2 linked regions of the Homo sapiens genome follow. The protein of the gene in region 1 purifies or fractionates together with the protein of each later gene. This does not show direct contact. Each region holds a gene or a part of one and is shown in the gene's direction. Other genes may lie near its edges.

Region 1 (4,996 bases):
AGTCTGTGTATATGCGAATAAATATATATGTATACTGTATATGTATATTCTTTTGTGTAAGCTGTTTATTGTTTCACAGTTTGTTGTTATATTATTTTTAGCTTAACTGATTTAGGAGATTGCTCTATAACATCACATATAGATCTCCCTTATTGTTTTCAAAACCTCAGGGTATTTCTATATGTGAACTTACTGTTATTTATTTTACTGGCCACCTAATGCTGGACATTTATTTTGTTTTCAATCTTTTGTTACAACTATGCTGCAGTGGATACTCTTTTACATGTTTTTGTGCACATGTGTGAGCATATGGATTAATTTCTAGTAGGTGTAATTTTTGGGCCAGAGGATACTTTTAATCTGCATAGATACTGCTAATTTGGGGTAGGCATAGTGGCTCAGGCCTATAATTCCAGTGCTTTGGGAGGCTGAGGCGGAAGGATTGATTGAAGCCAAGAGTTCAAGGCCTGGGTAACATAGTGAAATCCATCTGGGACAAAAAAAAAATTTTTTTTAATTAGCTGGGCATGGTGGTGTGTGCCCGTAGTCCTAGCAGGCTACAGGTGAGCTATGATTAGCAGGTTACAGTGAGCTATAATTGCACCACTGCACTCCAGCCTAGGTGACAGAGCTAAGACCCTGTCTCCAAAAAAAAAAAAAAAAAAAAAAGATATTGCTCATTTACATTCAGAAACACTGTAGCAGCACACATGTTTGAGAGTGTCATTTCCTCCACAGCTTGATCAACATGTATATTATTGTCAGTCCAGTAATCAGAAAGATTTCAAACAATTTCATTGTTTTAGTTTGTTATTTCTTTATGGGTAAGGCTGAACTTATTTTTTTTTCCTTTGAAACCATTTGTATTTCTTTTTTTATAAACTGCTTTAGTCTTTTACCTGTTCTCTTGATGGGCTGTTTGTCTTCTTTCTCACTGATTTGTAAGAACTCTTCTTATATTTAGGAAATTTGCCCTTCTTTGCAAAATCCTTTGCAAAATTTTTTTCTCTGAATTTTTTTTTGTTTTTGGCATTTTTTGATTATGTAGAAATATTTGTTTTATATGTTTAATTTGTCAGTCTTTTCTCTTAGAGCTTCTGCAAAATCTAGATTTTTAAACTTCAGGAGCAGAGGCAGACTAATATAACTGCAAGAGCACACCTGTTCTGCCCCTGAGTAGTTCTGTGATCTTGGGCAAATTACTTAACCTCTTAAGTGCACTCATTTGCATATTAGAAATAAACTACTGAGACTTCTTGGGTATTATTGAGACCTCTTAAGCATGTTGTGATTACAAAATGAACTGGTGACTTATTTTCTTTAGCTACTCCTGTAGTTTCCCAATTTGTTAAAAGCTGGCCTTGTACCCTGCCTCATATACTCTGCTTTCCTATCACATAAATGTGAACTTCTGAATATTTTGTGCAAAAGTAGGATAGAAATGAGGTAGAAGAAACTCATTTTTGTGATATAAATAAGGCTTTCAAATGAATCAGAGGTGCAATTAAAAAATAAAAGTTGGGCTCTTTTTAAAACTTGTTTTTATGTGGTAAAAATATACAAAGAAAAGTAAGCCTCACTTCCTCCCTCCTTTAAACTGGGGATTATTACAATGGGAATATAACAGTACCAGGAGTTTTTCATCTGAAATAATCAAACTGCTTATTCCTTACTAAATCTGCAATAAGAATACAAATTTGACCAAGAATGCTAGGATAAGAACATATTTTTTGGAGGAAGACGTTTATATTACAGTACTTTATAGTTTTTTAGATCATGGTTTCTCAGCCTTGGCACTTTGAGATTTTGGGCTGGAGAATTTCTTGTTGTGGGAGGCTGTTCTGTGCATTGTAGGGTGTTTTGCAGCATCCTTATCCATTAGACGTAACACCTTCACCAGTTGCAGCAATCAGAAATATCTCCAGACACTGACAAATATTTCCTAGAGGATTAAATTGCCTCTGGTTTAGAATCACTGGTTTATTTATTTATTTTTATTTTAAAGTTTTAGTACTTTTGAGAGAGAGTCTCGCTCTGTCGTCCAGGCTGGAGTGCAGTGGTGTGATCTTGGCTCACTGCAACCTCCACCCCTGGGTTCAAGCAATTCTCGTGCCTCAGCCTCCCGAGTAGCTGGGATTACAGGCGTGCATCACCACGCCTGGCTAATTTTTTTTGTATTTTTAGTACAGATGGATTTCACCATGTTTTCCAGGCTGGTCTCTATCTCCCGACCTCAAGTGATCCTCCTGCCTTGGCCTCCCAAAGTATTGAGATTATAGTGTGAGCCACTGCGCCCGGCCAAATCACTGGTTTAGATATATACTTATTTATTTATTATTATTTTTTGAGGCGGAGGTCTGGCTCTGTCGCTCAGGCTGGAGTGCAGTGGTGTGATCTCGGCTCACTGTAACCTCTGCCTCCCGAGTTCAAATGATTCTCCTGCCTCAGCCTCCCAAGTAGCTGGGATTATAGGCGCCCACCGCCACACCTGGCTAATTTTTGTGTTTTTAGTAGAGACGGGGTTTCACCATGTTGGCCAGGCTGGTCTCGAACTCCTGACCTCAGGTGATCCTCCCTCCTCAGCCTCCCAAATTGCTTGGGATTACAGGCGTGAGCCATCGTGCCCGGCCTAGATACATACTTTCTGTGGTCCATTAGGACATACAAGATATACTTTCTAGGGGTGAGGACAGGGGAAAGAGTTTATCTTCATATTTTTATTCTTAAGCCTGCCATGAGCCATGATTGACTCCTTGTGCATAAATATTGAGCTTAAAAAACTTAAATGAGAAGGCAACCTGAAATTGTGAACTTAATTTTATGTGTGATTTCTGTGCCTTTTTTAGTGTGATCTCCTCCCTCTTCCGGCTCCACTGTAGTTTGGAAACTTAGTGTGGTCTTCTTTTAGTTGTGGAACAGTTCTATCTAGTGGGCTAAGTATCAATACAGAGATCCTGGAAGGAAAACATTCTTATGCCACTGTTGAGAAGGAAGAGGACTGATGCTTCTAGAACACCTAATAAATACTAAATACTTTTAGATGATCTACATACATTATTTCACTTAATCTTCATAGCCTTTCTACAAGTAGGCATTAATCTTCTGTATTACTTGCTCACGGTTGTATTTTAAGTGGGAGAGTTGAGACTTGAACCCAGGCACATCTGTTCTCCAAGTACATTTGCTATGCTGCTTCCTATAGTCATTGATGATATTTCAGTCAAATTTTGGGATAAGAATGAACATTCATGTGATCTTACATTCCTCTATTGTTATGTAAAAGAAATTATCCAGTGGTGTGTGTGTGCGTGTGTTTGTGTGTATTGGGGAGGAGGTCAATAGTGGGATAATAACAATAATACTTACTGAGCACACTTACGTGTCATGTGCTATTTTCAATAATCTTTACAACCTGATGAACCTTTCAGTATTCTTTACAACTTGGTAATCCTTATATCCCTGTTTTACAAAAACAAAACAAAATAAAAAACTGGGACACAGAGGTGAAGTAATTTGTTCAAGGTCAAACTGCTGCTAAGTGGTAGAGCCAGAATTGTAACCCAGTAGTCTAAGCAACTCGGATATTGATTGAATGAGTCTGCATTTTTAAGGGCAAAATGGCTCTGACAGAGCTTATTGTGGTACCATTCCTTGGTTATAGCTGAACATATGTTGTAGGCTACTACATCTTCCTATGTGAAAATCAACTTATCATTGCATACACCACATCTCTAGAAAGTGATTGTTGCACGAAGTTATAGTGGAAAGTTTTTGTAGACATAGTAGAAGGTAGTTTTTCATTTTGCAACCTCCAGATTTATTGCTCATGAAAATCTAAGCTTGTCTAGGTTAGTGTACATCATACCAATATTTACTTTTAAGCTAATATTCTCTCAGACATGGTTATTTGGACTTGGAGTTTCTACAGTATTGTATTGCTAAAGATAAAATGTATCAGAGACTCCCTATAAAATAGACTTTTATTGACTAAAACCTGGAACCATTAGCTGTAATGATTTCTGATCCTCAGATGAACATTTTTGAGAACTAGCATAAAATAATGAGAGAGATCTTGGGCTCTGAAGTTAGAATGTCTTAGGTAAATTGATAGATTTTAGTTATATGAGCCATTAATTTTTATGAAATGTTGCACTTAATTAGAATTTTGATGGATCATTTATACTAAGGATTATTGATAACTTCATTCCATCTTTTGTTCTGTAGGTACAACATAGATATAGCATTATGCATATATAAAAAATATGAAATTATATGCATTAAAGGTGCTTCCAGTATTGATGGTTGATCCTCTGTTTCAGAAAACATTTACTAGATGCCTCCTGTGTGTCACTACTCTAGTAAGCCTTGGACATACAGAATAAGACCATGACATTTGCTCTGAAGTAGCTTTTGGTTTTTTAGGGAGATAAACACTGACTTTCTTGTGTGACAAGTACTGTGATAAAGGATGATAGAAGTAAGGCAAGGGGGTGCCATGAGAGAATACTGTGATTATGATGAAACTTTTGGTGGTAATATAGTTTTTAATTATTTAATGGTTTTATAGGATCCAGGGTTGTTACTGTAGAGGATATTTAAACTGTACTTGAAAGGATAACATAAATCTATAGGAACATTTGATTCAAGTTAAATTGTATTTTGGTGCATAGAGTTCATATTGTGGGATATAACATCAATTTTCTTATGAGATTCCTTGTTTTATCTTTTTTTTGTAATAAAGGAAGAATTTTTAACTTTGACCATAGAGCATAGGAAGGGGACTCAAGGATAGACTTCAAAAGATCTGTGATCTACTCCAAAACAGTAGGTAAAATATTTTATATATATATTTTAACAGAGTGTCAAGATTCTCATCCCAGGGACACTGAGAGAAGTTTTACGTAGTGGGAAGAACACTGGATATAGTACAAGACAAACCTGGATTGAATTGTAGCTCTGCCATTTGTGACATCTCTGAGTGATCATGGCAAATTAC
Region 2 (4,996 bases), on another chromosome or scaffold:
GGGGAAGATTTATTGCTAACTTCCCATAAAGTTACAGTTATCCTATATTGTAAAGATACAGCTTACACTTTAGAATCTGACAAGCTCAACCCTTCCAAGCTAATGGTGCTCCTTTAAATTTGTTTCCTGTGGCTTATAGGAGAATGGTAAATCATGAAATAACTAGAACTTAGGAAAGGTATAAACTCCTTTTATATTTGATTACTCTCAAATTTTCATTTGTCTGAATATGTAATGTTAAAAAAATAATTTCACTAAAAGGGAATCAGGACATCTTGGAGGATGACTGATTCTAGGTCTGGAATTAGAAATGTACAAAATGAGCCTGGATGGGGCATCTTGTCATAAAGGAAAGTATGGAAAATACCAGGTCATATCACAAGGATTCAGGAGCTCAGTTCCCACTGGTCAAGACTGGAAGAATATGAACTTTAAAAAGCGTAACTGAAGTGCTTTGAAACTGTAGTAGATGGATATGAAGAATTATTGTTCCTTTTGCCCTGTCGCACTCCTGAAAGCAAGATGATTCACCAGCAGCTCTACTGGAGCCACCCGCGAAAAGTCAGCCAGGGTTCTTGCTATTGTGTCTGCTGAAACTGGGCACAGTCTGATCTGGAAATTGAGCCTCGTTACATGCCACCAGTGTTTCCATCATACGTGAAGGATATAGATTTCATTAAGTTGGACTAAGTGATCTTCCACGAATGGATTATCTAAGGCACCCACCCAATGAGAGAAACCATGTTAGCTTTTTGTACATAAAATAAATATTTTAAAATAATTATTGTTATTTTTTATTTTTATTTTTGAGATGGGGTCTCTCTCTGTTCCTCAGGCTGGTGTGCAGTGGCATGTTCGTGGCTCACTGCAGCCTCCGCATCCCAGGCTCAAGTGATCCTCCCACCTCAGCTTCCTGAGTAGCTGGGACCACAGGCGCACACCACCATGCCTGGCTAATTTTTAAAATTATTTATAGAGACGAGGTCTCACTATGTTGCCCAGGCTGGTCTCACACTCCTAGGCTCAAGCAGTCCTCCCACCATGGCCTCGCAAAGTGCTTGGATTACAGACGTGAGCCACTGGGCCTGGCTTTTTTGTTTTTGTTTTTGTGTGTTTTTTTGAATGTGATAAAGGTAGTGGAAAAAAAAAAAGACACTTGCCTGTGCGTGGTGGCTCACATCTGTAATCCCAGAACTTTGGGAGGCCAAGGCAGGTGGATCACCTGAGGTCAGGAGTTCGGGACTAGCCTGGCTAACATGGTGAAACCCCATCTCTACTAAAAATATAAAAATTAGCCGGGAGTGGTGGCGCACGCCTGTAATCTCAGCTACTTAGGAGGCTGACACATTAGAATTGCTTGAACTGGGGAGGCAGTGGTTGCAGGAAGCAAAGATGGTGCCACTGAACTCCAGCCTGGGCGACAGAGTGAGACTCTGTCTCAAAAAGAAAAAAAAGGATTCTTAAGATACACATTAAAATATTATAGATGAAGCTGGGCACAGTGGCTTATGCATGTAATCCCAGCACTAGGATTAACATTTTTTCATAATAAAAAGCTTTTTCTAAAACTATAGAGACCTTGTTGAGAACAGCACTACAATTTTTTTCTTGTTTTTTTTGGATGGGGACAAGGTCTCACTCTGTCATCCAGGCTAGAGTGCAGTGACGTGATCATGGCTCACTGCAGTCTCGACCTCCTGCTTCAGCCTTCTGAGTAGCTAAGACTACAGGTGTGCACCACCACACCTAGCTTTTTAAAACAAATTTTTGTAGAGAGGATCTCGCCATGTTGTCCAGGCTGGCCTTGAACACCTGGTCTCAAGTGAATCCTTACACCCCAGCCTCCCAAAGTTCTGAGATTGCATACCTGAGCCACCATGTCTGGCCTACAGTTTCTTTTCTTTTCTTTTCTCTTTTCTTTTCTTTTTTTTTTTCCTTTTTTTTTTAGACACAGGAGTCTCGCTCTTGTTGCCCAGGCTGGAGTGCAATGGTGTGATCTCAGCTCACCGCAAACTCTGCCTCCCAGGTTCAAACGATTCTCCTGTCTCAGCCTCCTGAGTAGCTGGGATTACAGACATGCACCACCATGCCTGGCTAATTTTTTGTATTTTTAGTAGAGACGGGGTTTCTCCATGTTGGTCAGGCTAGTCTCAAACTCCCGACCTCAGGTGATCCGCCTGCCTTGGCCTCCCAGAGTGCTGGGATTATAGGCGTGAGCCACCGTGCCCAGCCAGTTTCTTTAGTAATTCATTTCTGTGACAGTTACCACTGTGGGGACATTTGTTCTTGCATCAAATCACTGTTAGTTAAGGCTATTCATGTTCTGTCCAACAGCTTGGCACCAACACCTGCTTACTTTCCTTTTCTCTTTTACCCTCTCTTCTCAGTTCTCTCTTTCCAGACGTAGTGAACTGTATGCAGACTGACAATCTGGAACTAAAGAAGCTTGTGTATCTCTACTTGATGAACTACGCCAAGAGTCAGCCAGACATGGCCATCATGGCTGTAAACAGCTTTGTGAAGGTAACTTTTCCCAAGGCCTCAATAACAGAGTTTGAATTGCAAATAAGTAACCTCTGTTCACAAGGAAGGAGTGTAGGGAAGTGTTGGCAATGACTAGGAATGTTCATGTTTTAAGCATTCTGTATACCAGTGTGTGTCATCCAGGGAAATTCAAACCATGTGCTGAGCTTTCTGTTAGTGGGGCTTGGTGCATCCTTGCCAGATGGGTAGAAGAAAACCTGGTGAAACCCCACTGTTTTACCTTCTGAGGCTGACAAAGGTGGGCATATCATTGTACTATCAGTAATTGGGGGCTTTACCTATTTTATCTTTGTAGAAATTATACTTATGAGTCAGCAGTAGTGGAGACTGCCGGAGTTTCTACTTTCATTTCATTTAATACGTCTTACATCATTTGATTAATTTTTTTTTTTTTTTGATACAGAGTCTCACTCTGTCACCGAGGCTGGAGTGCAGTGGCACGATCTTGGCTCACTGCAACCTCTGCCTCCCAGGTTCAAGTGATTCTCCTGCCTCAGTCTCCCAAGTAGCTGGGATTACAGGTGACCGTCACCATGCCCAGCTTATTTTTGTATTTTTAGTAGAGACAGGGTTTCACCATGTTGGTCAGGCTGATCTCGTGCTCCTAACTTCAAGTGATCCACCCACCTCAGCCTCACAAAGTGCTGGGGTTACGGACACAAGCCACCACTCCCGGCGTGATTAATTTTTTTTAATGGAAAATTTTAAACATATTCAAGAAAAAGGACTAGTATAATAAATTCCTAAATATCCGTCTTGCAGTTTTAACAGTTACCGACACATAACCACTCTTGTTTGTAATCCTCATACATATTTTCTGACCTCCAACCCCCTCTCCTGCTGGATAATTTTAAAGAAATCCTGAACATCATATATTAAATAGTTTTGTCTTTATATTTGTCAAGATAAGATCTTTTATTTAAACATAACCACAATATCATCATGTCTTTAAAAATGGACAAAATATTTTCTTATTATTGAATATCCAGTCAAATCTTTCCTATCATAGATTTAAAGAAAATAATAATGGGATCATTCCCATTAATTTTTTTTTTTTTTTGGTGACAGAATTTCACTCTTGTTGCCCGGGCTGGAGTGCAATGGCGCAATCTCAGCTCACCACAACCTCCGCCTCCCGGGCTCAAGTGATTCTCCTGCCTCATCCTCCCGAGTAGCTGGGATTACAGGCATGCACCACCACACCTGGCTAATTTTGTATATTTAGTAGAGATGGGGTTTCACCATATTGGCCAGGCTGGTCTCGAACTCCTGACCTCAGGTGATCCGCCCACCTTGGCCTCTCAAAGTGCTGGGATTACAGGCGTGAGCCACCATGTCCAGCCTAATATTTTTTTAATAGTTGTTTTTTCTCTGTTTGGAACTTAGTGTACATTTAAAAAAAACAGACAGCATTTCTAAAATTAGCTTCTATTTAAAATGTTTTGAAAAATAAGCAATATGCTTTCTTCTTTCTCATGAACTTTTTGTTCTTTTCCTGTGTTTAGCTACATTATAGAGTCAGAACGTAACAGTTTGTTCTCCATGACTGGTGGTTCATAGAGGGAATATATCATTGGGAAGAATTTAGTTTACATTTTTTGGAAGTTAGAGTTGTGCATAGATTTACATGGGCTTAAAGACATTTTTTTAGTGTAAGGCAGTTTAAAAGAGTGTTCTTTCTCCATATTCTATTTACTATATTTGGAAGCACTTGCTAGTAAAAGAGAATGTATGTTAGCCAAGAGCTCAGAGGGCCTTCTCTGCTGCTTAACTCCAGGTACTTATTTCAAGCCCAGACCAGCTCCTGTGCTCCCCTTTGTTTTCTTGGCTGCAGGCCACAGAAATCTAGCTCTCTTTTCTATTTGATGTTTAGGAACTCACTGTGGAGTAGGGCACGGTCTTTACAGCTCCTCTTTTTTTTTTTTTTTTTTTTCCTGTGCCGGAATACAAGCCCAAAAGCTTTTCCTGTTTTTAGGGTAGATCCTAATGGCTGTGGGATGGTACGAACTCCCTAAACCTCTGCCTGGCACTAGAGTGAATCCTGCTGAGCTGTTTCTCATTTTGTATTTAAAACAGTTAAATGACTTCTTCACCTAAACTCTTAAATAGGGCAGCTAAGATTTGTACTTAGGAAAGGAATAGCATGGAAGATTGGAGCTCATGTAGAATGTATCTGGAAGCTTAAATTAATGAGGTAATTCTTTTGCAGCTTACATAAACTGGACTGTTTACTTTTAGCCACCATGTATACCTACAGTTGTTGGTGATTGTTTTCTGCAGGACTGTGAAGATCCTAATCCTTTGATTCGAGCCTTGGCAGTCAGAACCATGGGGTGCATCCGGGTAGACAAAATTACAGAATATCTCTGTGAGCCGCTCCGCAAGTGCTTGAAGGATGAGGATCCCTATGTTCGGAAAACAGCAGCAGTCTGCGTGGCAAAACTCCATGATA

The links.
Region 2: the proteins of EPS15 (region 1) and AP2B1 purify together in Homo sapiens (affinity purification with mass spectrometry; 3 studies listed by BioGRID and IntAct, with this or other methods). This does not show direct contact.

What each region holds. Positions count from the first base shown.
Region 1 is NC_000001.11:51,508,517-51,513,512, reverse strand, and holds part of EPS15 (epidermal growth factor receptor substrate 15), read left to right. Parts: intron 1-4,996. UniProt on the Homo sapiens protein: Involved in cell growth regulation. May be involved in the regulation of mitogenic signals and control of cell proliferation. Involved in the internalization of ligand-inducible receptors of the receptor tyrosine kinase (RTK) type, in particular EGFR.
Region 2 is NC_000017.11:35,603,318-35,608,313, forward strand, and holds part of AP2B1 (AP-2 complex subunit beta), read left to right. Parts: intron 1-2,387; coding exon 2,388-2,523; intron 2,524-4,824; coding exon 4,825-4,996. UniProt on the Homo sapiens protein: Component of the adaptor protein complex 2 (AP-2). Adaptor protein complexes function in protein transport via transport vesicles in different membrane traffic pathways.